6 separate regions of the Homo sapiens genome follow, and regions 1, 3, 4, 5 and 6 are each linked to region 2. Evidence: fine-mapped expression QTL. A gene starts in region 2. Each other region holds a variant in brackets. All regions are shown on one strand. Distances are from middle to middle.

Evidence for each region. PIP is the estimated chance that this variant, and not a neighbour inherited with it, causes the effect.
Region 1: its variant is fine-mapped to the expression of SLCO3A1 in tibial artery (GTEx, PIP 0.93).
Region 3: its variant is fine-mapped to the expression of SLCO3A1 in monocytes (Fairfax 2014, PIP 0.95).
Region 4: its variant is fine-mapped to the expression of SLCO3A1 in whole blood (TOPMed, PIP above 0.99).
Region 5: its variant is fine-mapped to the expression of SLCO3A1 in whole blood (INTERVAL, PIP 0.97).
Region 6: its variant is fine-mapped to the expression of SLCO3A1 in whole blood (INTERVAL, PIP above 0.99).

What each region holds. Positions count from the first base shown.
Region 1 is chr15:92,025,250-92,030,322 of GRCh38, forward strand. The region is part of intron 2 of SLCO3A1 (solute carrier organic anion transporter family member 3A1); the gene reads left to right. Among named protein-coding and RNA genes, the nearest start is that of SLCO3A1, 170 kb to the left of the region's middle. The variant G/A (reference allele first, on the strand shown) is at 1,971.
Region 2 is chr15:91,851,686-91,856,758 of GRCh38, forward strand. SLCO3A1 (solute carrier organic anion transporter family member 3A1) reads left to right here and starts at 2,023. Exons shown (of 10, transcript NM_013272.4): 1 at 2,023-2,403. The coding sequence starts at 2,224. RefSeq lists silencers at 1,445-1,619, 1,488-1,627.
Region 3 is chr15:92,162,293-92,167,365 of GRCh38, forward strand. It overlaps SLCO3A1 (solute carrier organic anion transporter family member 3A1), which reads left to right. Exons shown (of 10, transcript NM_013272.4): 10 at 464-3,611. The coding sequence ends at 843. Among named protein-coding and RNA genes, the nearest start is that of ST8SIA2, 230 kb to the right of the region's middle. RefSeq lists an enhancer at 2,347-3,104. The variant T/C (reference allele first, on the strand shown) is at 3,028.
Region 4 is chr15:91,476,295-91,481,367 of GRCh38, forward strand. The region is part of intron 2 of CRAT37 (cervical cancer-associated transcript 37); the gene reads left to right. Among named protein-coding and RNA genes, the nearest start is that of CRAT37, 15 kb to the left of the region's middle. The variant A/G (reference allele first, on the strand shown) is at 3,134.
Region 5 is chr15:91,946,173-91,951,245 of GRCh38, forward strand. The region is part of intron 2 of SLCO3A1 (solute carrier organic anion transporter family member 3A1); the gene reads left to right. Among named protein-coding and RNA genes, the nearest start is that of SLCO3A1, 95 kb to the left of the region's middle. RefSeq lists an enhancer at 3,907-4,779. The variant A/G (reference allele first, on the strand shown) is at 2,691.
Region 6 is chr15:91,914,582-91,919,654 of GRCh38, forward strand. It overlaps SLCO3A1 (solute carrier organic anion transporter family member 3A1), which reads left to right. Exons shown (of 10, transcript NM_013272.4): 2 at 1,412-1,877. Among named protein-coding and RNA genes, the nearest start is that of SLCO3A1, 63 kb to the left of the region's middle. The variant G/A (reference allele first, on the strand shown) is at 2,084.

The DNA of each region.
Region 1 (5,073 bases), 170 kb after region 2:
GATTTTTAAATTCAAGAAGCCAAGAAGCACTTAAGGATACAGGCTCAAAGGTAAGCCAAGCCAATCCCTCCTAAATTTTAAGTTCTTATTTTAAGGCTGTGGATGATACTTCATAGGGTTCTTGAGAGAAATGTATGGGGGACACCATAGGCACAAAAGCTAATTGCAGCAACAGCGATGACACTAATGCTGCTGCTCTTGCTGCTGCTGCTGCTACCACTACTACTACTGCTGCTGCTGCTACTGTGGCTAGCAAACATATCAGTGGCATCCACTTGTTGTTTTGGAGAATGCTAGGCTCTGGGCCAGGCACTTTCCATTCTTGCTTTCTGATTTGTGACAACTCTACAAGGCAGGTATATCCTATTCCACATGTGAGCAAACTGAGGCTGGACATGAGGCTATGATCAATTCTTTTCCTTCCCCAACCATTCCCGTAGCTGTCTCTATGAGTTTAGTGTTAAACTGGGATGATCTGGGACTCTCTTCTCAGTCAGCAAAGGCAGAAGGAAGTGTTTTGAATTCTCCCGGCCGTGAGTGGCTGCCATCTACCTTGCTGATGCCGCGTGATGCATGGCAGTAAGAGTTAATGTTTCCCAAGGGTCCTTTAGCAGTGGAGATGCTGGAAGAGTGGTACACGGGTTTCTAAGTTACTTAACAGATTTTATGAACTGCTAATTACCTTGTAAAGACATTTTATTGAGCTAGAGTGATCTGCTGTTGGCACTGATTGTTTACATATCTCAGTCCTTTGGCCTGTTTCTTTTGCCCCAGGTCAGCGCATCCCTGAGAGCTCTGCTCTGTGTGCAGCAGGGAGGCTTTGGTGCAGTTCTTTACCCTGCACGTGTCCAAGCCCGTGTCCATGCCCTTGTCCACCACCAGTCACCAAGTGTAGGGATGGGTCTCTGTTTCTCCATCCGGTAACTCCTTAACTGTCGTTAGGAAAGGCAAGCAGAGGAACTGCAGTCTTGGGTGTGACCTCCCAATTTGACTACTAGATTTGGCAAGAAACAAGAGCCTTGGCTTTCCTATCTGCAAAGTGAAGGAAAGAATGGAGAAGGCAGGTGTGTGTTCCTTGTCTAATGGACTGTTCCTCCACAGCCTATAAGAAGTTTCTCACTAAGGAGACAGAAGTGACGAGAGCAGGTGGTGGTATGTTTAACAAATACCTGAGAGCAAGTAGAACTCATCAGCTTCTGTTTTATTTTTATTTTTCCTACTGAGTAGAATGCCTTAAAATGGAAAGTGTGGGACAAACAGGTTTACAAAGCAGCTAGAGTCCACAGTAATTAAAAAGAAAAAAAATAGTCTAGGGGTCCCTAAGGGTTCTATGATTTCTGCTTTCCGTTTTCTTCAGAGAATTTGATGTGAGTTCATAGGTCTGTAACCAGTTATTTATTTTAAAAAGCTATGCAGGACAAGGAAAGAGACATGTACAAAGGAGGTGGCCATGACCGTCATGGTTTTCATTACACTGGTAAAGATGGATTCTGAAAACAATGGACAATTCATGAGAGAGTGTAACAACATTCCCACCAAATGTCTAGCATAGATTATGGCCGGGCACAGTGGCTCACACCTGTAATCCCAGCATTTTCGGAGGCCAAGGCAGGTGGATCACTTGAGGTCAGGAGTTCAAGACCAGCCTGGCCAACATGGTGAAACCCCATCTCTACTAAAAATACAATAAACTAGCTTGGTGTGGTGGTGCACGCCTGTAATCCCAGCTACTTGGGAGGCTGAGACAGGAGAATCACTTGAACCCAGGAGGTGGAGGTTGCAGTGAGCCAAGATCGTGCCATTGCACTTCAGCCTGGGTGACAGAGTGAGACTTTGTCTCCAAAAAAAAAAAAAAAGGGGGGGTACATTATTAAACAGATGGTGAGCTTTGATAGAAGATCTCTGGGAGTTGTCATGAGCTCTCTAAAAAGAAGCAAAGCCAAATAATGCATTACATTTTTGATAGGGTC[G/A]GTATTGTGACAATAAATGCTAAATACGTGATTTCCTGGAGATGTAGAACAAACGTTCTTTTAATATCCTTGTGAACTTTCTAAACAACACCACATTGCTTTATTTGTTGAGAGATAAACTTTGTGTAAGACACAGGCTAATGCCTTTACATACGTTGTCCCACATAAATCTCAAATTCACCATTTGACGAAGGTACCGTCATCGTTTTTTTCGATATTGTGGATGAGCAAATAGGCTCAGAGATTTAGCAACTTGCCCAAGGTCACACAGCCAGCAGCAGCAAAGAGGAGTCTCATCCTGGTTTCTCTGTCGTCTTCACCCGTGCTTTGGCCACAGCACCGCAGTGCTCTCTAAGGACTTCTGTAAGCTGCACAGTTTGCTCCCGACGCATGCATTAAAGGATTGACATTGGTCTGGAAAGACCCCTGGTGTGGAGTGCCACAAGACTGTGCCTTTTGCTTTGTGCCGTTCAACATTTTTATCCATGTCCCTAACGAAAACACAAAGACACACTTACCACATAAACGAAGCAGTTTGCACAGGCTGGAGGAATAGATCATGAAAACAGGACCGCGTAAAATAATCTGTCACACCCGTGGACAGAAACCTCGACTGCCATTGCAAAGTGCACAAGTCTGCAGCTTGGTTTTTAGTTTATTTTAGTTTTCAGGTAAGGCACGAATGTGCAAGAGGAAGCTTAGGAGCAGAGTTTGAGACAAGGATGTGGGCAGTTAAGAGCCTGCACTGACTCCTCTGATCACAGCGTTCGGCTCAATCTGCACAAACCATGTTGAGAATCTTCCCTAGAATTTCTGCCGAGACTTAGCAGTGGGCACAAAACCCATCACTCTGCTTATGTGCTGCTGTTTATACTGGGTGCCTCTGAGCACCATGTGGGAAACAAAGACCAGAGTCTCTTGTGGAGGAAGAGAGGGCAGCACACAGTGGGGGAGGCTGGTCGGTCGTATGTCAGGTGATGATGGTACCAGAATGGCTGGGGGCCTCCTGGGAATTTCCACAAGTCCGTTGAAGTCCCCAGCCAGGGGATGGTTGAGTCCAAATCCGAGGCCTCCAGGTTCCCATTAGCATCCTCGGGAAGCCACAGCACCAAAATCTGCCCCCCACCCTGGCCTTTGCTGACCCCAGGAATAGCTCCGGCTCCTGCCCCTCAACATTTGCAGGATGTTCGCCACCATGCTTCACTCAGCAAAAGTATTTTTTCTACAGATGTTTATTGAACGCCGACAGCACTAGACAGCCAGTGTTCTAGGCCCTGGGGATACATTTTTAATGAAATACAGAGAGAAAAGATGAGGAGAGAAAAGACACAAATTCCAGCCCTCAGATCTGAGAGACAGTCTAACCCAGAGCCCAGCCAATCCAATCAGGATTTGGGACCTAATGCAATATTCAGACAGCCCAAATATAATCGTTTTAAGCTAGAATGATCAGGACTTGGGTTTAAAAAGCAAAGTAGATTTTGTTCCACAATAAAATCACTGCTTCTGATTTTTGTGGAGAAGATGCTGCAATTAGGGGTTTTTCCATTAGATCCGAAGCCAAGTGGAGAATGCCAGAAGTTTGGCATTCCCAAGAATTTTTGTAGGATCTGGAAATGAGAGTGTTTTGCTTTTTGCTGGCGTATCAGTTAGGAGATCTTGACGTTCTTGTTTCAGCTGCAGGCACAAGTGTGTGTGTGTGTGTGTGTGTGTGTGTGTGTGTGTACGTACATGAGAAAACCCCTGACCCATGGTCAAACAACCCCCAAAACTGCCAGTTGATTAGAAAAATGTCCTGTTTCCTTCAGGCCCCAGAGGACATACATTTAAGTAAATACTTTAATTAAATTACATCCTGTTGCCAAGTAATTTCTTAAAAGAGAGGCGGTAAATGGAATCTCTTCTGGGAAAGTTTGCTATAATTACTGGATGGCTTTCTTGGGGAGGAAAATGTTTATTTAAAAACTCCGCAGCCTCTTATACTTCTATGCCAGGTCTCTGACCCTGGGGGAAAAAAAGGAAACTTGTTCACTTCCTGAGGTTGCCAAATTTAGGATTTGTCCCTGGCGATGGGAACAGCTATCAGGGATTGTTTTGCCTTCCCAGCCAGGCTCCTGCCCTGGAGTGGGCATGAGCGGCAGGACCCCTTTGCTCTGGGGATTAAAGATGTTTGCACTGGACCCAACCAGAGACTATTCCCAGGCTTGGTAGGTGTCCATATATAAACTCTCCGTTCCGCATCTTTTACCTACTTAAACGTAGTCAGTGCCTGGGCAAAGACTCATGTGAACATTTGTTTTTGAAAAATGTTTGTTTTCTCATAAAGAAATACATATTCTCTGTAGAAAATTTGGAAACACAATAAAGGCTAAGCAGGAAAATAAGAATCATTTTCCTACAACCCAGGGAAAAAGTACATTTTTGACTGTTTTTTTTCCCCTCCTTGTATTTTTTTTTTCCCAAACACATATATGTAGTCGCGCTGACACTGTGTAAATGAATTATTTCATAAGATTTTGTCAAAAGGAAAGGTGAATGGCCTCTGGCCCCAGGATCTGGGCTCCCAGTGCAGCTGAGGCCTGCTCACTTGGCTTCATACATTTTTAATAGAACTCTTCCGTCTCACGTTATGAGAGATAAAAGATCTATGATTCAATCAGGCACCTTCTTGGCTCAGGTGAAGAGTCTGTGAACCAAAAGGCCACAGGTCAATTACCTCGGAGCTGCTAAGAATTGCAGCCTGCCGGCTCAGTCTGGCTTCAACCGTTGCATTATTACTCTAATAAAATGTCCTCGGCTACATTTTCGTAACAGTTGGTGATAGGAGTCCCAAAGGGGATTGGGCATTTATCTTGAACACGGGCTCTGCCCACGTTCCTACCATAGCATAGCAAAGTTTGGCTTAAAATTGAATGCGATCCTCCTGTTGATTCTTTCTGTGTGTTTTATCCCACAAAATGCCCCAAAGGGTTAGTTGGTTTTCAAAAGCTACGTGTTAGACACAGTTTGGTCTTTTTTTACCCTCCTTTCATGGCCTTGAGATTATGAATTGATGCTTTTCTTAGATGAATACCAAGAGAAAAGAACTTTACAAAATAACAAA
Region 2 (5,073 bases):
ACTGGTCAGGTTAACCTTTCTAGGCCTCAGTTGTCTCATCTGTAAAACAAGGCTAATAATAGTATCTGGTTTAGAGGATTGCTGTGAGGATTACGTTGTAAATGCGGGTGAAGCACTGAGAATGGTGTCTGGCCATAATAAGCACACAGTAAACATTAGCTCTTGTTATTACAAAGAATGTAAATAAGAGTTGAAGACTATAAAGCACTCCGCACATTTCATTAGCAATGGGGTCACCATTCGTAGACAAGTCTCAGCTCAGCTTTGCAGCTTACCGTCACAGAGGCAGGGAACAGAGCTAGCTTGTCAAGGGTCTTCTCAGGAGGAAGTGGGGAGGTAGCCCATGAAGCAAAGTGATGGGGAGGGAAAGAGGGGGACATAAAGATCCTGCAGAGAAGTTGGCTCCGAGTGATAGGAGGGTGTGGGGAAGAAAGAAGGGGGCAGTAAGGATTCTCATTATAGGACTGGCCGGGAATGGTGTGACCACTGATTCAGGAAGTGGGGAAGACGGGAAGAGACTTCAAGTGTGGGGGGAGCCAATTCAGATAGGAGGTGGCCTAGACAAGGTGAGGGCATCTCAAAGCGACACCAAGCCTGGGTGAGATCACGTCTGGAGCCACAGAAGGATGAAGCAGTTTATATTTAAATGCCATGGCAAAACAACATCCCCACCATTACACCCTCCATTCTCATTCAAGTTCTTCGGGAGAAAGGAAAAATATGGTCGGGTTCATTGCTATTCAGTTTTGAAGTTGAGCCTGCATTTGGACACAGGCGCTTGGGAGAGTGGGTCATTTTCTTTGACACAATTATTAAGGAAACCGTTTTAAATGATTCCTTGAGTCCCCCAATGGCCCAGGTGGAAGGTGCTGTTTCCTGGTACCTGTCCAGCCCTCTGAGCTTTTCTCTCAGCTTCCAAACGCTGCAGTTGAGAACTAGCAGATCCTATTGGTAGTGCCCTGTGGCCCACACTCCTTGGTAACGGTGAGAGTGGGGAGTAATTAGGAGCGGCTGCCATGGGCCAGGCATTCAGGTCAAGGCCGAGGATGGTGGCCAGGGCCACAGAGCCAGGGGACGGGTGGGGACCCAGCAGGCCTGCGGCTGGCCGCTTGCTGAGCGCTCCAGCAGCGGGGCCCTGGGCGGATGAAGGGCCGGAGAAGGCCCTCTGCTGGGGCCGCGGCGATCTTGCAGCGCCTGGACACCGAGGCTGGGGCACTAACGGTCCGTGGGGCTCCCGACGTATTCCTCTAACTTCCCCTTTCTGTCCTTTCGGTCTGGGGCCTTTTCAACACCCCCTGTGGCCGGGGACAGCTGGGGCAGAAACCGGCAGGCGGCAGAAGCCTCAAGCAGCTCTGACCTCTGGCACCTCCCCAAGACCCAGAGCACAACATCTGTCCCCAGAAATCCCCGGGCGGAGAAGAGCGCGCGCCAAGCCCTTCCTGGGTACTCAGTATTCTCCCTTCCTGGGAACAGCCTGCCCTCTGAGGCCTGGGCACCCGGGTTCCCGAGCGCCGGGTCCCAGCCCCGCGGGGGCGCCTCCGCACCCCATCTCCGCGCCCGGCGCAGAGCCGCCAGTCTCCGCCGCGGGGCCCCGTGCCCCGCAGCGCCACCTAGGGGCCGGGCGCCGCCTCCCGCCCTCAGGGGCACCCCCCTTACTCCGCAAGGACTCCGGGTCTCCCCAGTTCTCCCGGCAGCCGGACCCTCCCAGCCTCGGCCGCCGGGCCGCCCTCCGCATCCCAAGCCCGCCTCCCGTGCCTCCCCGGGGGCGCACCGGCAGCGAGGAGCGGCTCGGCGAGGGCGCGCAGCGGCGGCCCAGGCCCAGGCCTTGGGGCTGGGGCTGAGGGGGTGAGAGCAGGCGCGGCCGGCGGGCAAGGGGAACCGGGCGATGGCAGCGGCGGGCGGCCGCGGGAGGCGAGGCAGCGGCGGCGGCGGGCGGCGCGACGAGCCCCTGTGATTGGCACAGCCGGAGCCGGAGGAGGAGGCCAGGGGAGGGCGGAGGCGGGGGAGGAGGAGGAGGAAGGGGCGATCGCGGCGGCGGCGGCGGCGGCGAGGAGCTGTGCCTTCCACCTCTCCAGCCCCGGCAGGACGGGGGCGGCCGCCGCGAACCCGGGGCGGGGACAGCACGCAGCCTCGAGGCGCGCACCCCCGCCCGGCAGCGGCCCCGACACCCGGGGCGAGCGGGAAAGCGGCAGCGGCGGCGGCGGCGGCGGCGGCGGGGGAAGGATGCAGGGGAAGAAGCCGGGCGGTTCGTCGGGCGGCGGCCGGAGCGGCGAGCTGCAGGGGGACGAGGCGCAGAGGAACAAGAAAAAGAAAAAGAAGGTGTCCTGCTTTTCCAACATCAAGATCTTCCTGGTGTCCGAGTGCGCCCTGATGCTGGCGCAGGGCACGGTGGGCGCCTACCTGGTGAGTCCCCGAGCCAACTCCGCCGCGGGCCCCTTCCCCAGCCCGGCTCTCGAGCGGCCGCCTGGCCCGACGAGGGGGCCGCCCGGCGCTGGGGGCAGGCGGGCATGACCTCGGCCCGGCGTGGAGGTTGGCGAGTGGTGCAGAGGCGGCCGCCGGGGGAGCTGCCGGCCGGGGCTGCCAGCGAGCGGGTAGCGGGCGGGACCGTTGATGCCGGTAGCAGCTCGCGCGCGTCCGGCTGGGGCAGGGGGTGCCGGGGGAGGAGAGGCGGCGGGCAGGTGGGCGTGAAACTATTCCTCTCCCCCCATAAGAGCGGAGCGAGACGGTGAGTTCAGGGTTCTCCTTGGAGAGGAACGAAAAAGCGTCGGGGTTTTCAGGTGACCTGCACATGGGAAGAAAAACCAGTTAGCATCCTGCGTCCTCTACTCTCCATTGCATCCTCCTCGAGAACAAATCTATTATGCATCATTTTCTCCGGGCGCTTTCTACATCCGCCAATTACAGGGGGATATAACAGCTTAGAGTGAAATGCGCCCTAGTGTGGCCCTGGCCTGAGCCGGGGCTGCAGGGGGAATATTGCCACCCGGTATCCCTATAGCCCTCTTTGAGCGTCTGGGATAAAGTTACGGTACCTAGAGAGCAGCTGCGAGTTTGTGTAGTTCCTGCTATCCACTCTTAGTGCTAAATTCCCCATCGTGGTCTGTCGCCTACAGAAGGTTGCACCATTTTCCACAATGAATATGTATTTTATTTGCCTCCAGAAAGGGGATGTTAATGCTCAGAGGGCCCATGGGTGCGTAACATTTCAGAGGAAACAGCTTGTAATGACTCAGCACTGTCAGGTACCTACTTTGTCGCTTTCGCCTCCTCTGCTCAGGTGGTCGCAACTTGAGTTCCAGAGAGCGTGCTTCCACACCTAAGTACAGTCCTGTCTAAACGGGAAATTTTTTTTGAGAGTTTATAGTGTTAAATCATTACTTGGCTATTGACCCGCAACTGGAATCAAATGTCATAGACTTTGAGTATTCCTGAGCAAGTTTGATGGAGATAGAATTGGACAAGATTTTGGCCATTGAATAACCACATCCAGAGATAGAACCACGCGTATCCTGATGCTATGATTAATCCCTCATTCCTGGCCTTGGGGTAAAGTTCATGAGGGCCAGACGCTGGGGGCTGTATACCATTCATAAACTATCTCTTAAGGCTCAGGGCTCACTGTTAAAGGGAAATACAAGCAGTGCTTGGTCTCCGGTGTTGAGGAAGTTAGGTGGTTGTGAGAGAGGGGGTCTTCAAACTCAGCTCTGTTCCTGGGGTGACAGAATTTCAGGGCTTTTGAAAATCAAATACATTTCTGTTGCTCATTCTGAGACGAAAAGCGTTTACATCCCGGTCTCTGTCTTGTGCATTCGTAACTTGTAGACTGCAAGTGAACCCTGTAGTCAAAAGCATACCTTGTTTTCTGTTCTATAAAATACACTTATTGTGTCTATAGTTATAATATGCAGTTGCAGACAGTACCTATTAGCCCTTGGAATTTGAGGGATAGGGGATAATTGTGTTTTGGGAGTCAGTTTATCGGCACTTCCTTAGGGGAAATTTAACTGTTAAAATATTTAAATAAGTACATGTATTACAGAGATGCAAATTCACATTAATAAAATATATGTGGGTCTGTACTGTGACATATGCAAAGTACATAATACCTAACCGGGTCTATGTTTAGAAGGAGGTAATTAGTATATCAACAGCTGCCTCCACTTTAACGGTTTGTTTGCCTCAAACCAATTTTGCTCGGTAGAGTGCATTATTCATGTGTGGCAAACACCCGCAGAACTTTTCACCCCAGGAGTGATAAAAGCGTGGGCTTACTATTTTTCGGTTGCAGTGATCTAAGGATTTGACAAATAAATGAAGCTGGGCTGCAACTAGATGAATGGCCTAGCTCCTTTAGAAAGTTAAGAAGCCGAGTACTCCTGGAGTGGTGGACTTCTGGAGGCAGGGCTGGCCCCAGGAGATAGGAGGTTGACTTTAATCCCAGAACAGGGGAATGGCAAGCAGAGGAGGAATTCGGTCCACCTGGTGGCGGCATCCTGGCACTTCTAGCCTTCGCTGATGGAAAGCCTGGTTGGGTGGGGTAGGGTAACAGGAGTCAACAGGTGACTTGCAGAAAGCAGCTGGAGGCCCAGGAGAGGACAGGCCTAGGAAATTGAATTCATTTTGATTACTAGGAGTGGAGGCATAAGGCTCTAAGGGCTCTGCTTTGCCCGGCTGCCCTCGTCTTTGCCTTGCCATCGGAGCCTCATGAAAATAAATAGTTGGCTTGTCAGGGTTGACTGACGCAGCTTGCTATGGGCTTTGCTCTTCTGGGCCACTTCAGAGTTTTCTCTTCATCTGTTATTTGGGAGATGGGGAAAAAAAGTTTGCTCCTTCAGCCATGCGAGACTTCTCTGTGGATAATTGGAGAATGAAATATTGCAGGCTGTTTGCAGGAAAGGCACATTTCTTCCTTTTAATTCATCATGGCTTTCTTAGGAAACCTGAGACCTTGTGTCTGTAGGGGACCACAGGGCAGGGTCCACGTGCTAAGTGTGCGTTATACGTGATCCTTACCTTGGCAATCAGCCTGCCTCTCTAATGAGGCATTTCCAGATACTTGAGGAAGGACTTGCC
Region 3 (5,073 bases), 310 kb after region 2:
AACATGTACCACAGTGCAAATTCCAGGTTGTCTCTTTAGTAGAGACGGGGTTTCACCATGTTGGCCAGGCTGGTCTCAAACTCCTGATCTCAGGTGATCCACCTGCTTCAGCCTCCCAAAGTGCTGGAATTACAGGTGTGAGCCACCATGCCAGACTGATGCTTTCTATGTGTAAAGTTAGTCTTCACAGCCATCTGGTGAAGACTGTAGTATTATCATCATCCCCATTTTGCAGATGAGGAAACTAAGGCAGGAGGGCTTAAATAACTTGCTCAGATTTGTACCATAATAAAAAGGCAGAACTGGGACACAAACTCATGCGCTTTGCCTCCTGAGCATGTCTTTGAGCCACGGAGTCAGACATATTTGCCTAGCAGTGCTATAAGAAAAGCTAGGCAGAGACAGGAACAGGGGAGCACTGGCCACCAGATCCAGAACCTTAACATTCTTTTCCCGGTAACAGGCTTCATCCCTCCACCCCTCATCTTCGGGGCTGGCATCGACTCCACCTGCCTGTTCTGGAGCACGTTCTGTGGGGAGCAAGGCGCCTGCGTCCTCTACGACAATGTGGTCTACCGATACCTGTATGTCAGCATCGCCATCGCGCTCAAATCCTTCGCCTTCATCCTGTACACCACCACGTGGCAGTGCCTGAGGAAAAACTATAAACGCTACATCAAAAACCACGAGGGCGGGCTGAGCACCAGTGAGTTCTTTGCCTCTACTCTGACCCTAGACAACCTGGGGAGGGACCCTGTGCCCGCAAACCAGACACATAGGACAAAGTTTATCTATAACCTGGAAGACCATGAGTGGTGTGAAAACATGGAGTCCGTTTTATAGTGACTAAAGGAGGGCTGAACTCTGTATTAGTAATCCAAGGGTCATTTTTTTCTTAAAAAAAGAAAAAAAGGTTCCAAAAAAAACCAAAACTCAGTACACACACACAGGCACAGATGCACACACACGCAGACAGACACACCGACTTTGTCCTTTTTCTCAGCATCAGAGCCAGACAGGATTCAGAATAAGGAGAGAATGACATCGTGCGGCAGGGTCCTGGAGGCCACTTGCGCGGCTGGGCCACAGAGTCTACTTTGAAGGCACCTCATGGTTTTCAGGATGCTGACAGCTGCAAGCAACAGGCACTGCCAAATTCAGGGAACAGTGGTGGCCAGCTTGGAGGATGGACATTTCTGGATACACATACACATACAAAACAGAAAACATTTTTTAAAAGAAGTTTCCTAAAATAAAAAAAATTAAAAAAAAAAAACCCACAAGTTGAAAACATTGCCAGATTAAGCACTAGTGACACACCCCGTGCCACCCTCTTCCTCCAGGTGGGGGTGGGGGCGGGCGCACAAGTCGGAGGGGTGGAAGCACCACTCCTCTCTCTGACTTTCGCAATATGGGTCACTGTGTAGACGACTCACCCAGTCTGCATGTGGTTCAAGGCCCCAGAGTTCTCTCAGTGATGCTAATGGGTGATCCGTGCTGGAGTTTGTAATTGGCACCTCTCACCAGCTCCATTTCCATGTTCAAGACTGAGGGCCTGAGGGGGAGCCAGGTGGGGGGCCAGCACCTCCCAGTGGCGGGCATCCACCTTCCCCCAGCCCCACAGAGTGACCTCAGGAAGCAGTAGGCCTCGCCTGGCTATGACTGACCCGGCTCAGAGCTGGTGAGACCCAACGCAGTCCAAGTCATTTGCTTACATTTGCCAAAAACATTTTGCCATTTTTAAAAGAAAAAAATACAATCCATATGAATTTCAAACTGTTGTATGTATAATCCTCTAATACTATTTTTAACTACTTCTAAAATCTGTGTTAACCCTTCAAGTCACTAACACAGTTCTCTAGGCCGGATTTATTATGCTGGTTGCTTTTACTTTTTTTCTCCTTTTTTAATGCACCAAAAATATGTGATACAAGGGATGCAATTAACCTATTGTAATTTTCATCATTTTATCCTCATTCGAATATTCTACAAAAACAAGAATATACAATGTGTTACAAGAAGAAAAAAAAATGCTTCAAAAAGAGAGTGTATATGCAGCCTGCCTTTAAAAGAATCACATTTGAGACAACAGGGGATAATGTGATGAATTGCAAATTTGCCTTTTAGCTTCCTTCCCCATGATTCAGTGATCACTGTCACGGGAAACCCTTTTATATTCATGCTTGACATTCCAAGAGGCGTTCTTTTCAGCCTGTGGAGGAGACACTCTTAGATGTGGGTTTGTGTGTATGGGTGCAACACTTCCGGGGATAGGAAAGAAGAACAGTTCCCTAACACAAGCTGTTAAGAAGTCTGTAGCATCTCTGATAACGAATAGACCCACAAGCTCCTGGAAGCTGTCGTGTGTCCAATGCGTGAAAATGTCTGTGACATTTTCAGTGTTAGTCTTGAACTAAGGCCCTTGTCTGTGTGTTTTGAAGGTGGGTGAACCTCAGAGAATGAACCTGTTATGATTTGGGGTAAGAATCACGTTGGAAAACCTCTCGCAACCAGCACACTAGGCCTTCTACGGCCATTTCTGTAAGGGGACAGAGCTTAGGTAAAGGCACACACTCATACACACACAACAAAGGGCCCTGCTAACTTACTCCTCATGCTGCTTCAGTGACCTTTGTTCATGTCACATTCCTGGCGCTGGAAAAAAAACTCAAAGGTTGATTGGTTTGCTTTTTCACCTTGGACACATTTGCATTTTACCCACAAGGCAAACAAAAGAATCAGGAAGTAAAAAATGGTTGGGAGTGGGACAGGTATGGTACCGAATTTTTAATGAACATTGTAAATGAAGAGGCTTGAATGACAGCCCAAATCTAGAGAAGGCACTCAGCAAGACCAACCAAAAGAAAAGCTGTGTCGTGGTATGGGGCCACCGTGATCAGCTACCTGGGGCAGGATGCTTCTGAGACAGGCCTTTCAACTGCTTAGTGTTAGTATGTCCTTGCTTATGAAAATGGGGACACTCATCAGTACGTTAACTACTAAAGGGGAGATGGTTCTCCAACCACT[T/C]CATAAAATATGTATGTTCTGTTGTTCCTAAGGCTTTGATAATATCCTGTACAGATTTTGGTTTAGTTTTGCAAATATATTGCTAATAGGTCACTCTTATAGATTATTGCTTGGCCCTTCAAACTCAGTACACACACACTGAGGCCCTTTGACCTAGTGTTTTATGGAACTATTTGCTTTGAGAGAAAAAAAAAAGAAAGTTTTTTAAACTCTTTGCATTTTGGATTTTTTTTCCTAAGATTTTAGGATGAATGTGAAAAAGATGTTAGAATAACAGGAAGACAACTCCAGGGCTGAGTTTTATCAGCAATTGGGTATAAATTTAAAGACCGCTGTTGCAGGATGGCTCTGAATTCTGTTGTGTCGTCTTTTAAAATTTTAATTATTCTCATATAGTACCGAACAGAAAACTCAGTCTAGTTTTAATTTGCCTTTTGTGCTCTAAAGAAGCATTGTACATACAACACTAGATCCAGCCCCTCGATTATCTGTTTGGTTTCAAGTGAATGAAAAGATTTCCTGGTAAGATCATTGGATTTACAGAATACAAAAATGTACGGGATGGAATAAACCTAGAAAGTGAATGCTAGAGTTCTCTCTCTTCTGCTACAAACTCCTACACCATCTCAGCTGAACATGCCCAGGGTGGATGAAAAGTCTCTCTCTGCTGAAATTGACAGATCTTTGTAACTCCTACGTAGAGACAAAGAAGGTTTGGGTTTTGTTTTGTTTTTTGTTTTGTTTTGTTTTGTTTTTCTACCAATATCATTCCCTCCTATGAAGTAAGCACATTTTGCAAAAATGCCTCTCTAGGGGACAGGGTTTGCTGTCTTCTCTCAGCTGAGGCTGTGTGCTCTCAGGGAACGCTGGCTCTGAGGCACCCTGGGGGACAGGGCTCCAGAAGGCCACAGCATGGCATGCGGGCTTTCCTCACAGCTAGCGAAGGAGTGGAAGCAGCCTCCTCTCACGGTCCCCCCGAGGAGCTTGCTAGGAACACTTAACAGGCAAAATAATAACTGGAAAGCCAGGAGCTCCTAAGGAATCATTTGACAGGGTTGCTAACGTCTTCCTAGCAGGAGGGAGCGTGCCCCTCCATAAAAATCACTTCCTTCTCACCATCTGATCATGGAATAACTCGCTCTAGTGCTGACTTTTAAAGATTGGTTGAGTGTCATCTGTACATTCCAGTCCCCCGATTCCACTGCCCTGTGTCCAGTAATTGCCCTCCAGCTTCCCCTCACTCACACTATGGCAGGGCTTCCCAGCCCTTACAGTCAAAAAGCCTGCAGAAACGTTCCACACAAGGGCAACCAGCTGGTCCCTGGGATGGTAGTCACACCACTCTTGAGGAATTTTCCCAGGAAAAAGATTCTCCTGTGGTTGCTAATGGATATTCTTTCACACCTTCCAGAGGAGGTCATTCACTGAGGAACATTTAAAATGGAGATAGATACATGTACTAAAATAGAAAAACCTCCAAGGAAAAGTAGTTTCTGGGTCCCCGTGTGCCTGCTGGGCTGGTTTTCTTGCCGCCTGCTGCTTCCGGTCCTAGGAAGTCTGGTTTCTTCTCCACCCAGCCATGCCTGCCAGACCTGTGCAGTCTGCTCTAAGCCCTGCTAGGAACTCCAAAGGCCCTACTCAGCAGTGGCAAGCTATGAAGGTCAGTGCATAGAGGTCAATGCATCTGATCATACAGTCAAGACCAGAAAAACAGGATGAGCTTCTGTTGCAGTTGGACGGAGTTACGCTATATTTTATTGTTGCTTGAATATTTTATTTGATTTGGTTTAGATGAGGGAAGAAACCATGCAGTTTTTTCAGTCTAACAGATGGAGAATACTTCCCGCTGCCTGGTGCTATTCTTACCTGACTATCTTGATGGCTTGGGAGAACCACATATCTGGCCAGAAGCCAGAGGAAAGTACCAGACACATGGCAGGGGCCTGCTGGCTCCACTGGGCTCACGCCATTCTCCTCTGATTGACCTCCTCTCAACCATGATCCATGTTTCCTTTTAGGGACCGTTCCCCCTTAGGTTAGAATCCA
Region 4 (5,073 bases), 380 kb before region 2:
TTATAACTGTGGCTTCATTCTTTTCCTTCAGGTCTATTGGTTTTTGCTTCACTTAGCTTGAGGCTTTGTTGTTAAGTGCATATACATTTAGGATTATTAGGAGTTCTTGATGAATTGACTCTTTTACCATTATGTTATGTTCTGTTTATCCCTGGTAATTTTCCTTGTTCTGAAATCTACTTCATCTGATATTAATGTAGACACTCCACTTTTCTTTTGATTAATGTACACATTTTATATCTTAGTCCTTCCTTTCACTTTTAACCCACCTATATAAAAAGGGTTTCTTAAAGGGAGTACCTGTATATATTTGGGTTTATTTTTAATCATTCTGACATTTTAAATCTATTATTTGTTATGTTTAGACCATCTAATTTGGGGAACATGGTTATAATAGCTGCTTTGAAGTCTGTTAACTCTAACTTTTATGTAACCTTAGAGTTGGTGTCTGTTAATTATATTTTTTATTGTGATGAGATATTCCTGATTATTTGTATGCCAATTAATTTTGGATTATATTCTGGACATGATGAGACCCTGGGTCTTATTTAAATGCTAAAGAGAATGTTAACTTTGTAATTCTTGTTGCTGTTGTTTTGGCATGCAATCACCCTGATTACATTTGGTCTGCAAATTCTGACCTGCCTTCTCTGAGTCTGGCATAATTCCATTTTCAAAGTATTTTCACTGTTGCTGAGAACAGTCCCAGTGGCTAGTCTGTGGCCCCGTAGCTCAATTCTCAAAGCCTGTGATATGCTGATAAGGTTCAGATTGACAAATGCACAGGTAGGAGGCGCACTCAGGAGTTCATACACAACTTTATGGCGTCACGCTCTTGATCCCTGTCCTCTCTGTGATTTCACCAATGTACACTTATTCCCTGCGTCCTCTCTTCTCAGTTCTCTGGCTAGAAATCTAGAGTTCTATTTTCCCCAATATCATGCAAACTTACTGCAACTGTGCCTACGTCTAGGACCAAGTGACAGGAGGAGACAGAGGCAAAACACATATAGCAATGTGTATCCACTGAAAATTCAAAGGACCACAGTTCTTTTTGATAAGGGAGAAGAGTTCCCTTTCCTCAGAGTTTTAGGTGCACGACTGCTGTCATTGCTGTCAATGCTGCTGCCAGTGCCACTGGAGTGTTGCTTGGGCATCGCTGTGGGAGACAAGAACAAGAGAAGTCTTCTCCCTGTGGCCTTTCTGTCCACACTTGGTGTGGATTTCTGGGCTTCAGGATGCCTTTGATTTCAGGATGGATGATACTGAAGGGAAAAAATGGTAAACTCACCACTGGTTCAGGCAGACTTCAAAGTCTGTTCTCTTTCTCCATCCACCTGTTATCATCCATGTGTTACAGTCATCAGATAGTTCTTTCTTGCATTCTATTCAAGCATTATAGGTGCGTTCAGTGAGAGAGACAGGGTGGTGTGTCTTGAATCCATCTTCTCTACAACCACAACCATAGCTTGCATTTTAAAGATTTTTTTGTAATAAGTACAAAATGAATGCCTTTTCATTGTAGATAATACAAAATATGCAGATAAGAAGAAAGTAAAAATCACCCATAATACTAACATTTCCGCATCACTTCTGTTGATTTGTGTTTTAAGCAAAATTAGATCATGTAGTCCATGTGGCTTTGTATTTTTTTTTTTCTTTTCACTTAGTGGACTTATTTTCATGGTAATATACATTCTTCTCCAAGATCACTTTTCAAAATTGCACAAAAAAGGCAAACATCCCTTCATATGGATGTACCCTAATTTTTTTTTTTTTTTTTTTTTTTTGAGACGGAGTCTCGCTTTGTTGCCCAGGCTGGAGTGCAGTGGCGCGATCTCGGCTTACTGCAGTCTCCGCCTCCCGGGTTCACGCCATTCTCCTGCCTCAGCCTCTGGAGTAGCTGGGACTACAGGCGCCCGCCACCACGCCCGGCTAATTTTTTTTTGTATTTTTAGTAGAGACGGGGTTTCACTGTGTTAGCCAGGATGGTCTCGATCTCCTGACCACGTGATCCGCCCACCTCGGCCTCCCAAAGTGCTGGGATTACAGGTGTGAGCCACCGCGCCCGGCTGGGATGTACCCTAATTTTTTAAAACCAAGTTCTTGTCATTGAACATCCAAGTTGCACAGCTTTTATACTGGTTGCAACCAAGGGGTAAGTAGCTGAAGAAGTCGCAACAGGAGTTAAACTCTCTTAAATACTCTTTAGGCCCCATTCGAATTTTTAAAACAAAAATATGCTATTTTACAACCCCGCCCTAACCGCAGTTAGAAAAATTTATCCTCTGGAAACTACTATAAAGTGCAATGGCCGTGATTCTCAGAAAACTGGTTAGATAGGACCCATGCTTCAACACAGGAACTGACATCTAAGCACAGAAGTTGGATGCCTGAAAGAAAAGCAGACAGTGTTGTGTCCTTAAAAATAAATGCATTGCCATTATTTTTATGTGTCTCTGTGCCTCAGCCCCTGCCGCACACGATAAAGATGCAACTGTGTCTGTACTATAGCGATAAGACGCCATGGGGAAGTGCTTGCAGAGGCTGTGTTTTTTTTTTTTAAAAAAGCCACAAAGAACTCCTTAATTAAGTCTTCCTTTCACCCTTATTAAAATTCGGTGAAGATTACCATGGAATTTGTCCTCTATCTCACAAACAAATCATAACAATTTCATAAGACTTCCTCAGGCTGCCTGGAGTATAGCTTATTGTTTCACTAGTGTTTTATAAATAGAAAAATGTATATGAAATCCTCCAGCACACCCTTAGAAAGGACTTAGCTCAGCCTGTCTGTCGTGATGACACTGTCAGAGAACTGGCTGGAAGCTGGTGACTTAATAATGCAAACTAAGGCTTAAAGAATACACACACATACACACATATGTACCTAAGTGTTTGTGTGTGTGTGTGTGGATGTATGTGCTCATATGACAATAACCTCATATATGGTATTCCGCTAGATGGCAACTTGAAATCATCTCAGTTGTTTTAAGGCTTATAGAAAACTCCAAGAATACATTGTAGAATAAGCTATGATATCTAAGCATAAAACAATGGGGAAAAATAAGAAACTTTAAAATAAGAATTGAAGGTCTCACAAAAAATACGAAACACTCTATAACATTAATGC[A/G]TGCAAAACCTGATGTTCTGGAAATAAACAGGCCTAGAGTTGAGGTTTGAGTATAATACACACGATCATCATAATAACTAACATTCAAGGAGCACTTAGTGTGGACTGAACTCTTTGCTAACCACTTTCTCTTTCATGCCTTTAACAGTTTAAGATTACTCTATTATTTTTACAGCAAAGACACAGAGGCTTTTAGCACTATTGCATGACAAGTCCCAAATCCCACCCATGTTAAGTTCTGGGTTCAGGATATGAACCTGGGCCTCCCTGACCTCCGGGCCTTATTTTCAACCACCTTTCCTTTTCTTAGCTTCCTTGTTCTTGGCTCAGAATTCCCCCTGCCTCTATGTTTATTTGGTCTCACATCAGTTTTGGTGTTTGGATTTCATTACAGTTATGCCTTATTTGGAGAGCATCTTTTAAGGAGTGACAATATTTTTTTAAAAAGGTAATTTTTTAAAAAATTTTCTTCCAATAGATATTGGGACAGTTTCAGCAAGTAAAACAGCTCTGCATAGGTGATAGGGCTAAAGGAAAATGTTTTCTATGACAAGTGTTTGTTATCTTTACCTCTTCTCTGCACAATGAAGAGAATCCTGCTTGGACCTCAAGCCAGGGGCCCTCTGCAGCTGCCACCTTAGATGCTGGGCCTCACAGTCTGGTGTCTGGACTCTGGCTGCAGTAACTGGAGCAATGGGGAGGTAAAGACAAAACTGGAAATGTGAGGGTGAGCGTTGCTTTGGAAAGAACAGAAATTATCTGTGGGGAAAAACAATAAAGATGGGAAGAAAGCTGCAAGAGGCCAAAAACAAGGCACTGGTGGGCTGGGGGGGGATTTGGGGAGATCATGGGAAAAGGGGTGGGGAAACCTTGGGGTCACTGAGCCAGGAGACAAAGATGGGGAGGAAGAGGCAAGGGGAAGAGAGTAGTGAGAGGCACTGCTGTGGTTATTCATTGCATCCCCTTTCAGATTCACCTGAAAATGGGAGACATGTCTGGCCATGTGTTAATATTTTTCATGGCTGGTCTGCGAGAGTGACTCCAGTCCAAGCCTGGGCTGCACGGGCCCCTGTTCTAAGTGGTCATTCAAGCTACTTTTTAAATATGTGTTTTCATTTGTACAGTTTTTTAGTTTCATTTGAGATTGTTATCTCTTTTATTGGATTCTAAAATCTTAGTTGTCAGCATAAACTCTCCCACGGGGAGCCCTGTAGTCTTAATGAACGGAAATTTCTGTGTAAGCAGGAGACAGAAGGCATGGGTGAGATTAATACTATAGGGATCATGCTTTATGTTTTACATGCTTTTCTTGAAAGTAGAGTGGTTACCTAAAATGATTTCTAGAACATTGCTGGTATACAGTATATTTAAAATTAATAAAAGTAAACAGCTGTACTGAAATGGAATAATTATCACATGCAACAGAATTGGCAAACTCCCTAATATATTTTATGCTAATTGTTGATCAGCTACTATGTACCAGGCATCAGGCTTCATGCCTACAATTCAATGATCAATTTATGAAACAGTTTCTGCTCTTAGGCTCACAGTCTGGTGGTGTAACAACCAGCATGCAGCTCGGCTTACTTGGTCCTAAAATAACTGTGCACAGCACAGTTTATCCTGGTCTATGGTGAGGGTTCCACTCCTAATAAACTCCACAACTGTGACATTTATAACAAAAGTTTTGGTAAAGAACAAGGGTTGGGATGCAGTTGCAGACTTGCAAATACAAATGACTTTTCCCAAAGGAATTTCAGTATGAAAAGAGGTCTTGCAGCCATAACTCCAGCATTACAAACCTAAGCACCATCAAGCAAATACAACCTTTGCAAATTTGCCATCAAGAAAATAAACCCTAAGGGCCTGAAAGAAGGCCCATCGCAATCTGGTCCTTTCCTACCATTGAAACAATGCCTTGTTTCTTACTATTCCTCTCA
Region 5 (5,073 bases), 94 kb after region 2:
TGTAATGCAAGTGCTGAGAAGACTTAGAGATAATTAGGGCAGCGTCTTCTCTGCGGAGAGGTTGAGCCACTCAGCTGGTGTCACCCAGCTGGTCAGTGGCAGGGAGCCAGGCTGCACGTCTTTGATTTTTAACCTACACTCTCACCAGTGAGATCAGCCCTGGGCAGCCTGTGAATCTGATCGTGTTACCTTCCATTGATTCCCAGATACCCTGTGTTCCAGGCAGTGCCAAGAACCAGTGAGGAGCACTCCGGGCCCTGGTAGACAGAAACATCCTTCAGAGTTTATGGCAAACAGGAGAGATTTGAAAGTGGCCAGTATGTAGGGAAATGGTTCAGTCAGTTATGTTATATGAAAATGATGGAATATTTCCCAAATATTAGGTAGTGGTCAGAAGAATATTCTGTAACTTTGGAATGCATGTGGTAGAGAACCAAGTGAAAAAATAGGACTTCGTAGTATGGGTTGAGTGTGCAATGCACTTAAGGAGAAGGACTTGGGAGGATTATACTGTTTCATTTTTCCTAAATATGTCTATGATGCAGTTACATGAAAAAGGAAGCATGCTGTCAGAACCCCCAGTTCCCAGTTTAGTTGTCATAATGCTTAAAGGCCAAGGGGTAAGAGCAAATGACTGGAGTTACCAAAATTCCCCTCCGAGGAAGGGCAGGTCGGCGTCCTTCTGCAAACATTCTTCTAGCCAACGGAACCTGCCATTGTGGAATGGCAAAGGTGGGGACCTGCCGTGCGTGCTGCTGGAAGAAGTTTATAATCAAATGTGTCCATGAGTCCAAGACAGGATGAGTCAATGGTGCTCACGGAGGACTCTTCCATCCCCAGTCATACCCCTTAAAGCAGCACAAAGCAAGCTCCTGTCATCGGGTCCCGAGTGACCACAGGATGTTATTTTGGCCTTTGGCCCTGTGTATTTCCTTCCCTGGCCTTGAGAGGGCTGTGGAGGGCAGATCAACAGGGCAAAGGAAGCTTCGCTCTTTGAAATATCCATGCTTGCCCCTTCTGGGACCTCCCTCCTGGGTGCACCTCTAATCATACGACCCCTCCTTGTCGAGGACCGTCTTTTCCGAGGCTCTGTGGCATATGGTGACGATGACATAGGAAAAGCAGCTTATCTTTGAAATTCAGCTTGTGAATTCCAATTCTGTGAAATTGTGGGAATCCTCAGGCCTTTCCCGAACAAGCTCCCGTGCTCTTGGTCTGGTTGCCGCTGGCAGAGTTAGTGTCTTTTAGCTTCTCACTCAGGTGGTGCTTTGTTGCCTGGACAAGCTATACTCCTTCTTCCCTTTTTTCTCTGCTCTGGAGTGTTTTTGTGGGGTGAGGAGAGCTCTTAAATCCTTCTAGGTCTTGAGATGATGACACTAGGAGCCTGGTCATTGTGGGCAGGAAGTAGACTATAGATAGGGCCGACAGATCGTTGCCTTCGGCCTTTGTCACTTGTTTAACCCACTTGAGTGTTTATTAAAAATGTGAGTTAGTTCCCGACATTCACTCTGGATCTAGGCTTCTCCTGGAGCAATAATAGCTGAAGCCAGAAGCGTCTGTGCAGCAGCTAGACGGGGCAGGTTGCTCCGATGGCCCCATTGCCCTCCCAGACTGCTTTCCTCGTTAGTACCCCCTGCTTGGCCCTAGCAGCCAGGTGACTTTGGGACCCTGGGTCGGTCTGTACACTGCAGAGTGCTGTCTTGGATCCTGGGGCTCTTATTGACACACAGCTGCTGGCAATTCCCCTTTGGCCCCCGTGCAGGTGACCGAAAGTGACTGCAGCCCAGTTAGCAGGGGCTTTTCCAGTTCCATGTGAGAATTGTTTATCCTCCCAACTAGGTGTTCCAGCAGGGCCGTGGGAGCAGAAGCAGAATTCAGATGACAGATAGACGAATGGAGATAAAATAGAGATTGACTTCTGCATTCCTTGCTCAGCTTTCCACACCCTAATAAAAGTCTGAGCCAGAAAGTGGGTGGAAGCCCTGGCCCTTTGTTACCTGCCCTTTGTTTCAGTGCCATGCGGCTAATGAATGCCGACCTCCGGGAAGCTTTTTCCACTCCTGCTTGGCGCATGAGAATACAACCAGCTGGTCCCTCCACAGTGGGCTCAAATGTGACCCTGCGTAGTGCTCCTGGGAGGTGCATTTGAGCTGTCCTAGAAGGGCTTCCAGAGCTCGAGCTGTTGCCAAGTTTAGAAGTGGCCGCATGTGTGGTGCCAGCCACAGCATCCTATTCCTGCAGATAAGCCTACAGGCTCTGTAGGAGTGCCGGCATGCACACAGCACCACCTGGGTGGAAAGCAGCAGTCATTGGTTAGGAATTTGGGGATTTTCTAATCTAAGTGTTCTCCCAAGGAAGTGCAAGTCAGGAGAGGGCCGAATGTGCACGAGACTCTGCAGGAAGGCTGAAAAACTTTCAAAACAGTACAGGCAATTAATCAGGGATGCCTGCATGGGCCACTCTCTGGTGCCCTGTGTTTACAGACATGAGGGCTGGGTTTTCCTGCCCTGAGAAGAGAGGGCCGTCCAAGGAATAGGAGAGCCATGGCACAGGAAGTGGAAAGTCAGTCTGGGATGTAAAGTTGGAAGTCAGGGTCCTTTGGGTCCTGTATCCTGACTAATGACCCCAAAGATATTCTGGGTGGCATGTGCCAGCCTCCTTGCCAAGTGTCTCAGAGCCTGCAGAGCACC[A/G]TCCATCCTCAATTCCTTTAATAACCTGAGGAACCTGTCATCCATTTAGGAATCAATACTTTGGTTTTTTTTTTTTTACTATTATTTCTGCTTACCTCACCTTTTGGGGGAATCATTCCCTCCATTTTTATCCCTGGTGTAAACTTCCCTGCCCTCTGGCAGATGTCATTGTTATCCTTGAGTATTTATGCAGTTCTGATGTCCTTACTGAGTGCTGACCCTCTGCATGCAGGTATCTAGGTGTGGTTGGGGTGGGTGCATCAAAAAGGCTAGACTGTGTGCAGCTGCTTCTGCACACAGATAACTCTGACACACACCCAAATTGGCATAGAGACTGGCGCTGGGGGGAAGGATGTGACCAATAGGACCAGACTGTCTACCTGGGTTCAAATCCTGGCTCCACCATTTCCTGGCTGCATGATCCGGCACTAGGTTTCTCATCTGTTAGTGGGGATAAGGGTAGTACCCATGCGGAGGGCAGTTGTGAGGAGTAAAAGAGTAACTATACTGTAATCCCAGCACTTTGGGAGGCTGAGACAGGCAAATCGCTTGAGGCCAGGAGTTTGAGACCAGCCTGGTCAACATGGCGAAACCCCATCCCTACTAAAAATATAAAAATTAGCCAAGCGTGGTGGTATGTACCTGTAATCCTAGCTACTCCGGAGGCTGAGGCACAAGACACACTTCAACCCGGGAGGTGGAGTTTGCAATGAGTTGAGATCGTGCCACTGCACTTCAGCCTGGGCGACAGAGTGAGACTCTGTCCCCCCAAAAGAAGAGTAACTGTAGGTGAATTGCCAGCGTGGTTCTGGGCAGCTGTGAAGCCCTATGAAAGTGTGTTGGTGGTTGCCTTTAATATAGAAGGCAGATGAGCTTGTAGTCCCAGCTACTTGGGAGGTCAAGGCAGGAGGATCGCTTGAGGCCTGGAGTTCAAGACCAGCCTGAACAATATAGTGAGACCCCGGCTTTAATAAATAAATAAATAAGCAAGCAAGCAAGCTGAGCGTGGTGCTGCACACCTGTGTTTCCAGCTACTCGGGAGGCTGAGGCAGGAGGATCACCTGAGCCTGGGAGATTGAGGTTGCAGTGAGCCCTCATGGTGCTACTGCACTCCAGCCTGAGCAACAGAACCAGACCCTGTCTCTAAAAAACAACAACGAAAAGAAGGCAGACTGTGATGGATTCTATACGGAAGAGATAAATGCCCTGCTGTGGAAATGTAGAGGAGGAAAAATTAGTCCTGACAAGGGAGGTTTTTAGGAGAAAGGCAGATTGAAGCTGCCCCTGGGGAAGAAAGTTGTAACAGGCAGAGGAAGCAGCTGGAATGAGGTAGGGAGGCCTGATGGTATGGAGTCTGCATGCTCAGGGCTGCCTGCTGTGGCCAGAGATTCGGGTGTGTGTATTGTGGAGGGGATTGCAGGGGGCTGGGGAAGCAGAGATCAGTCTGCAGTGGTGGGTGAAGACAGCCAGTCGTGTTGCACGTGGGACAGGGGCCCTGGCTGGGCAGGCAGGGGGAGCCCAGCCCTGTCACTGGCCATTGATCCCAGGCCTTGACCAAATGGGGTCTCTAATCCCCAAGGGTCCCGGTGGGTTATTAGGAAGGGCAGATGAGCCCCTGCAGGGGAACGTTGTGCAGTATGGCAGGCGCACCCCACATGGGTGTGTGATCCTTTGTTTTTTTGCTGCAGGCTCCATAATGTCATCCGGTCTTTCTAGCCTCCTAAGAATGAGGTTCCTAGTTCTTACCTAATTTCTCTTCAATTTCTCATGCACTGCATCTTCCCGCTGTTTATTTAATGTACATGTTGTCTGACTTCATTTGGTTCTGTATTTCACAACCAGTCTGATTGCTCTTGTCCCAAGTCATTGCTTTTTGGGGTGAGGGCTGATGTGTTGTTGAAAGTCTTTGGCAATGCTTAATTTTATGGTATGTGCAATGCTAATTCTGCCTTTAGTAATTTGATGACAGAGACTTCTTGGGAACCACAGCCAGGGAGCCACCCTTTACTCCACCAACAGGTGGCTTATATCCAATCTGAGAAAGAAAGAAAAAAAAAAAAGTATTTCTCTGGCTTTCACTTCATTTGACAGGTGAGCTGAAGCTATTGTGTGTATTCTCTTAGTAAAGTCAGTTCCCACAGTTCCCTGGGGGTGATGTGGCTTTGAGGTAAGAATGAGGTAACAGACTTAAATGTACATGATTTTATTGAGATAGAATTCACATACCACAAAATTCACCCTTTTAAATTGTAAAGTCCTGTGGTTTTTAGTATATTAACAAGGCAGTACAACCATCACCATTATCTAATTCTACAACATTTCATCATCCCCAGAAGAAACTCCATTAGCAATCCTCTCCCATCCCCTGTTCCCTTACCCTCTG
Region 6 (5,073 bases), 63 kb after region 2:
TTTTTGGAAGCAAGGTCTCGCTCTGTTGCCCAAACTGGAGTGCAGTGGTGTGATCTCAGCTCACTGCAACCGCCGCCTCCAGGGTTCAAGCAATTCTCCTGCCTCAGCCTTCCCTGAGTAGCTGGGATTATAGGTATGCACCACCACGCCTCGCTAAATTGTGTATTTTTAGTAGAGAAGGGGTTTTGCCATGTTGGCCAGGCTGGTCTCGAACTCCTGGCCTCAAGTGACCTGCCCACCTCGGCCTCCCAAAGTGTTGGGATTACAGGTGTGAGCCACTGCTCCCGGCCCCAGCTATTTTCTCTTCCATGATGAAATCATGCCACCTATCTTTGGCTCATGCTGTTCCTTTTGCCTGAAATGTTCTTCCCTACTCAGCGAGGACATCATTCAGCTGTCAGATCTCCCATGACAAGGACTCTTGTCTTGCTCACAGCACCCTGCGTGGAATTTGCACACAGCAGCAGAGGGTAGCCATCTCATTTTCTTACCACTTTAAGAAGCCCTGTAAGAATGCATCTCCTCATGGCCCCCTTGGTGTGAGGTCTGCATCACACATCTCACCTCCAGTCCCTTTGTGTTATTCTTAGGTACATGTTTACCTTCTTGCTAGATGGCTTCTTCAGGCCAGATGTCCTCTCTCCATCACTTTTCTCTTGTGTCTAGGGCATTGCCTGGCAAGCAGCAGATGTTCGGTATATGTTTAACAAACATAGGGCAGACAAGAATACAAAAAAACGGGGGAAATCATAATATTCAGTTGGAGGGTACTTGGCAGGGTCATAGTGCTTAGAACAGTCAGGGGTGTATTTACCTGATGGCCTCTGGGGAAATGTACACTGGAAATTTCCAGACGGAAGCAAAGAGCAAATGATTACCCCGCTGGGCTGATTTAGCTTGTGCATTTTGCCACTTGGGTTTTGTTAAGTTTGTTTTTATTTTGAGGTGGGGGATAGGCTTTGCTAACCTCCTGCGGAAAATCTCCTGGCTCCTCTGTCTTCCTGGCATGGACTTTATCCCTAGTATATATTTGGGAGTGTGTGCAAACCGCGCACTTCAGGACTTTTATAGGTTTTCATGGGCTGTCTGTGGTGGAGGTCTGTGGGGGTGGGGAATGCAGTGTTTCCGGAAGAGGGTAGAAGCTTTCAGGATGGAAACAGGTGCCAGAAAAAACATTGTTGCTACTGGGAAAGTGAATTCGTTAACTGAATTAGGGTTATGATACTAAATAAACGTCTTTCTGATTCGTCAGGTTAAAAGGCATTTACACAGCTGCCTTTTTGCACCTGGCACCGGAGGCCAGGTGGGAGGGTCCCGGGGGGGATGGGCAGAGCGCACTGTCAGGCGGGAAGGAGAGGCTTCCTGGGCATCTTCTTGGATTGGCTCTGACCTTTCTTCTTGCCCCCCTCAGGTGAGCGTCCTGACCACCCTGGAGCGTAGGTTCAACCTGCAGAGCGCTGACGTGGGTGTGATCGCTAGCAGCTTCGAGATCGGGAACCTGGCGCTCATCCTCTTCGTGAGCTACTTCGGGGCACGCGGGCACCGGCCGCGCCTGATCGGCTGCGGCGGCATCGTCATGGCGCTGGGCGCGCTGCTGTCGGCGCTGCCCGAGTTCCTGACCCACCAGTACAAGTACGAGGCGGGCGAGATCCGCTGGGGCGCCGAGGGCCGCGACGTCTGCGCAGCCAACGGCTCGGGCGGCGACGAGGGGCCCGACCCCGACCTCATCTGCCGCAACCGGACGGCTACCAACATGATGTACTTGCTGCTCATTGGGGCCCAGGTGCTCCTGGGCATCGGTGCTACCCCTGTGCAGCCCCTGGGCGTCTCCTACATCGACGACCACGTGCGGAGGAAGGACTCCTCGCTCTATATAGGTAGGAGCTGCCCCAGCCGTATTAGCAAGAGACCAGGGTGTGTTGACCATGGATAAAAGGTGGCCTGGTGGACTTTGATTTTGCCAGAGTACTGGTTCTCAGACTTGGCTGCACACCTAGTGTTCTTGAAAAATACTCATGCCTGGGGGTGCAACCTGGGCATTGAGACGTTTTTAAAAGTTCCCAGGTGATTCTTGTGAGCGGCC[G/A]AATTTGAGCTCCACGGGGCTAGACCACTAACACCGCTTCAGTGGGAAAACATGATCGGGAGGAGTTGTATGTTTATCTCTTCTTTTTGAGTGCGTATGTGGACTTTGGGCTTTCTGATATTAGCCACCAAGGTATACTTGGGGTCTACACATTGGAAACTCCAGCTTTGAAGAATCAGAATGATGTCCTGGTCATTGTCCTGTTGCAGCTCAAAAGGAGAGGTGATGGCTTTGCCAGCATTTGGCATCATTCGAAGTTGGTGACTTCCGGTAATTTTTTCAATAATGGAAGTATGCATGGGAATTGGGTATGTAGAGAGAAATAAGGTATTTGTGTTTTGAAAAGTTATTTTTCACGGTCAGAGTTTCTGATGTTTTATACTGGAAGGATGGAAACCACTTGTGCGTGGGGGTTAAGAATCATCTGAGTGGCAAGTTGTTTATTACGTGGCGGGCAGTGTTTTCAGTGGCTGCGGTGGGCTCTGTTGGATGGCAGCGTGCAAGGTGAGGGCTGGCCAGCCCCGCATCTCTATCCCTTGTTTACAAAGTATAATTCTGTCTCCTGCCAGCTGCTGGATTTTTCTGACATCCCCAGTCACTGAGTGCTAAGCTTTGAAAACATTACCTCTACCCAGGGAAGCTTTATGCCTCCCAAAAGCAATGTGCCTTGAGGTAGAAAGTTAATTATATTATGGAGTTTTAAGTGAAAATAGAATTTGAACTGGATTTGACATAAAGGTTCCTATCTGCCAGGCTTCAAGCTTGCTGAGATAGGATGGTTTGGAAGCAGGACACACCGAAATGCAGATTTTTCTCTGTGTCTTTCTGGCCCAGCTTTGGAGTAGACGCGTTTACTGAACACGGATGTTGCACGCGGATGTTCTGGCTGGCTGTGAGCAGGCTCTGGGCAGGAAAGATGGAAGGAATGCGCCTCTCCATTCAGAGGATGGAGCACCAGTGAGCCTAGTCACCAGCTACCTATGGAACAAAGGGGAAGAGAAAACGGCTCAGGCCAGAGATGGTTAGGGGTTTCCATTATTACCTGAGAGTGGTTATGGTGGAGGAAGGGAAACTAAGGTAATCATTTTTCTTTCATTGCCTTAAGTCTTGAGTGAAAGCCGCTCCACGTGAGTTTTTTGCACACCAGATCATGGACTACAGCATGTAGCCACAAAGGTCTCCTGAGGTCCACCCTCTGACTTGACTGATGTCACCCTAGGGCTCTGGGAGAGTTGTTTTCTGGTAGGAATAACAGGAAGTAGATCAATCAGAGCACAGGGAATGAAATGGGGAGTGAAAACCTGAATTGTTGTCTCTGCTGATAGAATCAAGTAGAAAAATTTCTCCCCAGAGTCACCCCTGAAGTCCTAACAGTGCTGTATCACTTCTGCCTGGGGCTTCCAGCCGTAGTCACTGAACCCTCTTCTGGAAGTGTCTCCTGATGAGTTAAGCTGTGCTGTTTCCCCACACTGGGTGAGGGTTGGTTTGAATGTGCCAAAAGCTTTATGGTGAGGAAGCACTTTGGTTTGGGACATGGGGGTGTGGGAGGTGGAGGCGTGGACAGTAGGGCTGATCATTTGAGGCAGAAGGCCTTCTTGAATTCTGAGGCCTTGTCTGTGGGATTTGCATTGAGTCTTTGGTAGGAAGAACTATTCAGCCAAATTTCTATTTGGTCACCCCATTCCTCTGTGATAAGTCTGAGTTGGGGGAGTGTCTCTTTGCATGACATACGAACATCTTGGTGGCTCTGTTACATATGGCCAGATTCCAAAACATCGTAGCCCATGCCATGGAGATGATAGTTCTGGGTTTCTCTGCACTGGTTTACATGGGTTTGTGTTTATCGGGATCAGGAGAGGACAAGTCTTTTGCATAGATTGGCCTCAATAGGGGGCCTTTTATTCCATATGTGGTTTATTCTCCAGGTATAATTTAAGATCATAGCATATGCAGAGTATAACTGGTTCATTTATTTATTGTATGAGCTATAAAAAAAGTGTTTGTGGTAGTGAGAATATTTCAGAGTTTATCTCCTCTAATATGGCACTAGTTCCTGAAGCCACTTAACTTTACTTCACAGTATTTGGGGTAGCCCACTGAACAGGATTGATATAAAATTCTGGCCTCTTAACTCCCTGAAGAGGAGGAAAGTCTCAAGGGACTGATGCTGGGACTGTAGGTGTAACTGTATATCCATCGGGGAGGAATAACATGTGTACCCCTGGTTCCAGCTCCTGCAGAGTTGGTCTAGAGAGGGGCCCACAACCAATTGTCTGGTCATATGCCTAAATCGTGACACTATAGTGGAGATTGAAAGGATTCTAAATATGGCATGTGTAAAACACCAGCTTGTTCTTGAGCTGAGCCTTCCCTTTGGGTGTCAGCAGGGAACAGAATGATCAACATGCACAGCTCAGGCTGCAGATCAGTGGTGATGACACCTGCCCCGGGTCACCCGCATTGTGGGTCACTAGATGGGTGCTGTTTGTACATCGGTGGCCGTGTCGTAGCTTCCACTACAACCCAGGGCAAAGTGAAGCATTCCATCTTGAATCAAGCCGATATTTTCCACTGAAATGACTTACTTGCTTTGGCCTCTTGTGGCTGAGCCGCTGCCAGATTCCTGGATTCCTGGATGGGCTATTCACAAGGGGCTCCTCTGGCTGGCACCATTCTTCAGCCCGTCCTTTCCAGTGTGGGAGGGAGCCAAGGGAGCTCATTACCAGGGGACAAAACTGGATGAATGGGGACTCGGCTCTGCTGGCAGGCTTTCACTGCGGCATCATGCGGCACCCGGACTCACAGTGCAGCCAGACGGTGACCCGTGGGTGGCACGTGGCACTCTTTGTTCCTAGAGTGACTACATGGGCGCAGTGGCAGTGGAGACCACTGGGCCCCTACTGAGGTCGGAGAATCCATTCTTTGGGAGTCTAGTCATGCCTCTAGCTCCATGTTGTGATCTTCCATTAGCCCAGTTTTCTTAGCTGTCC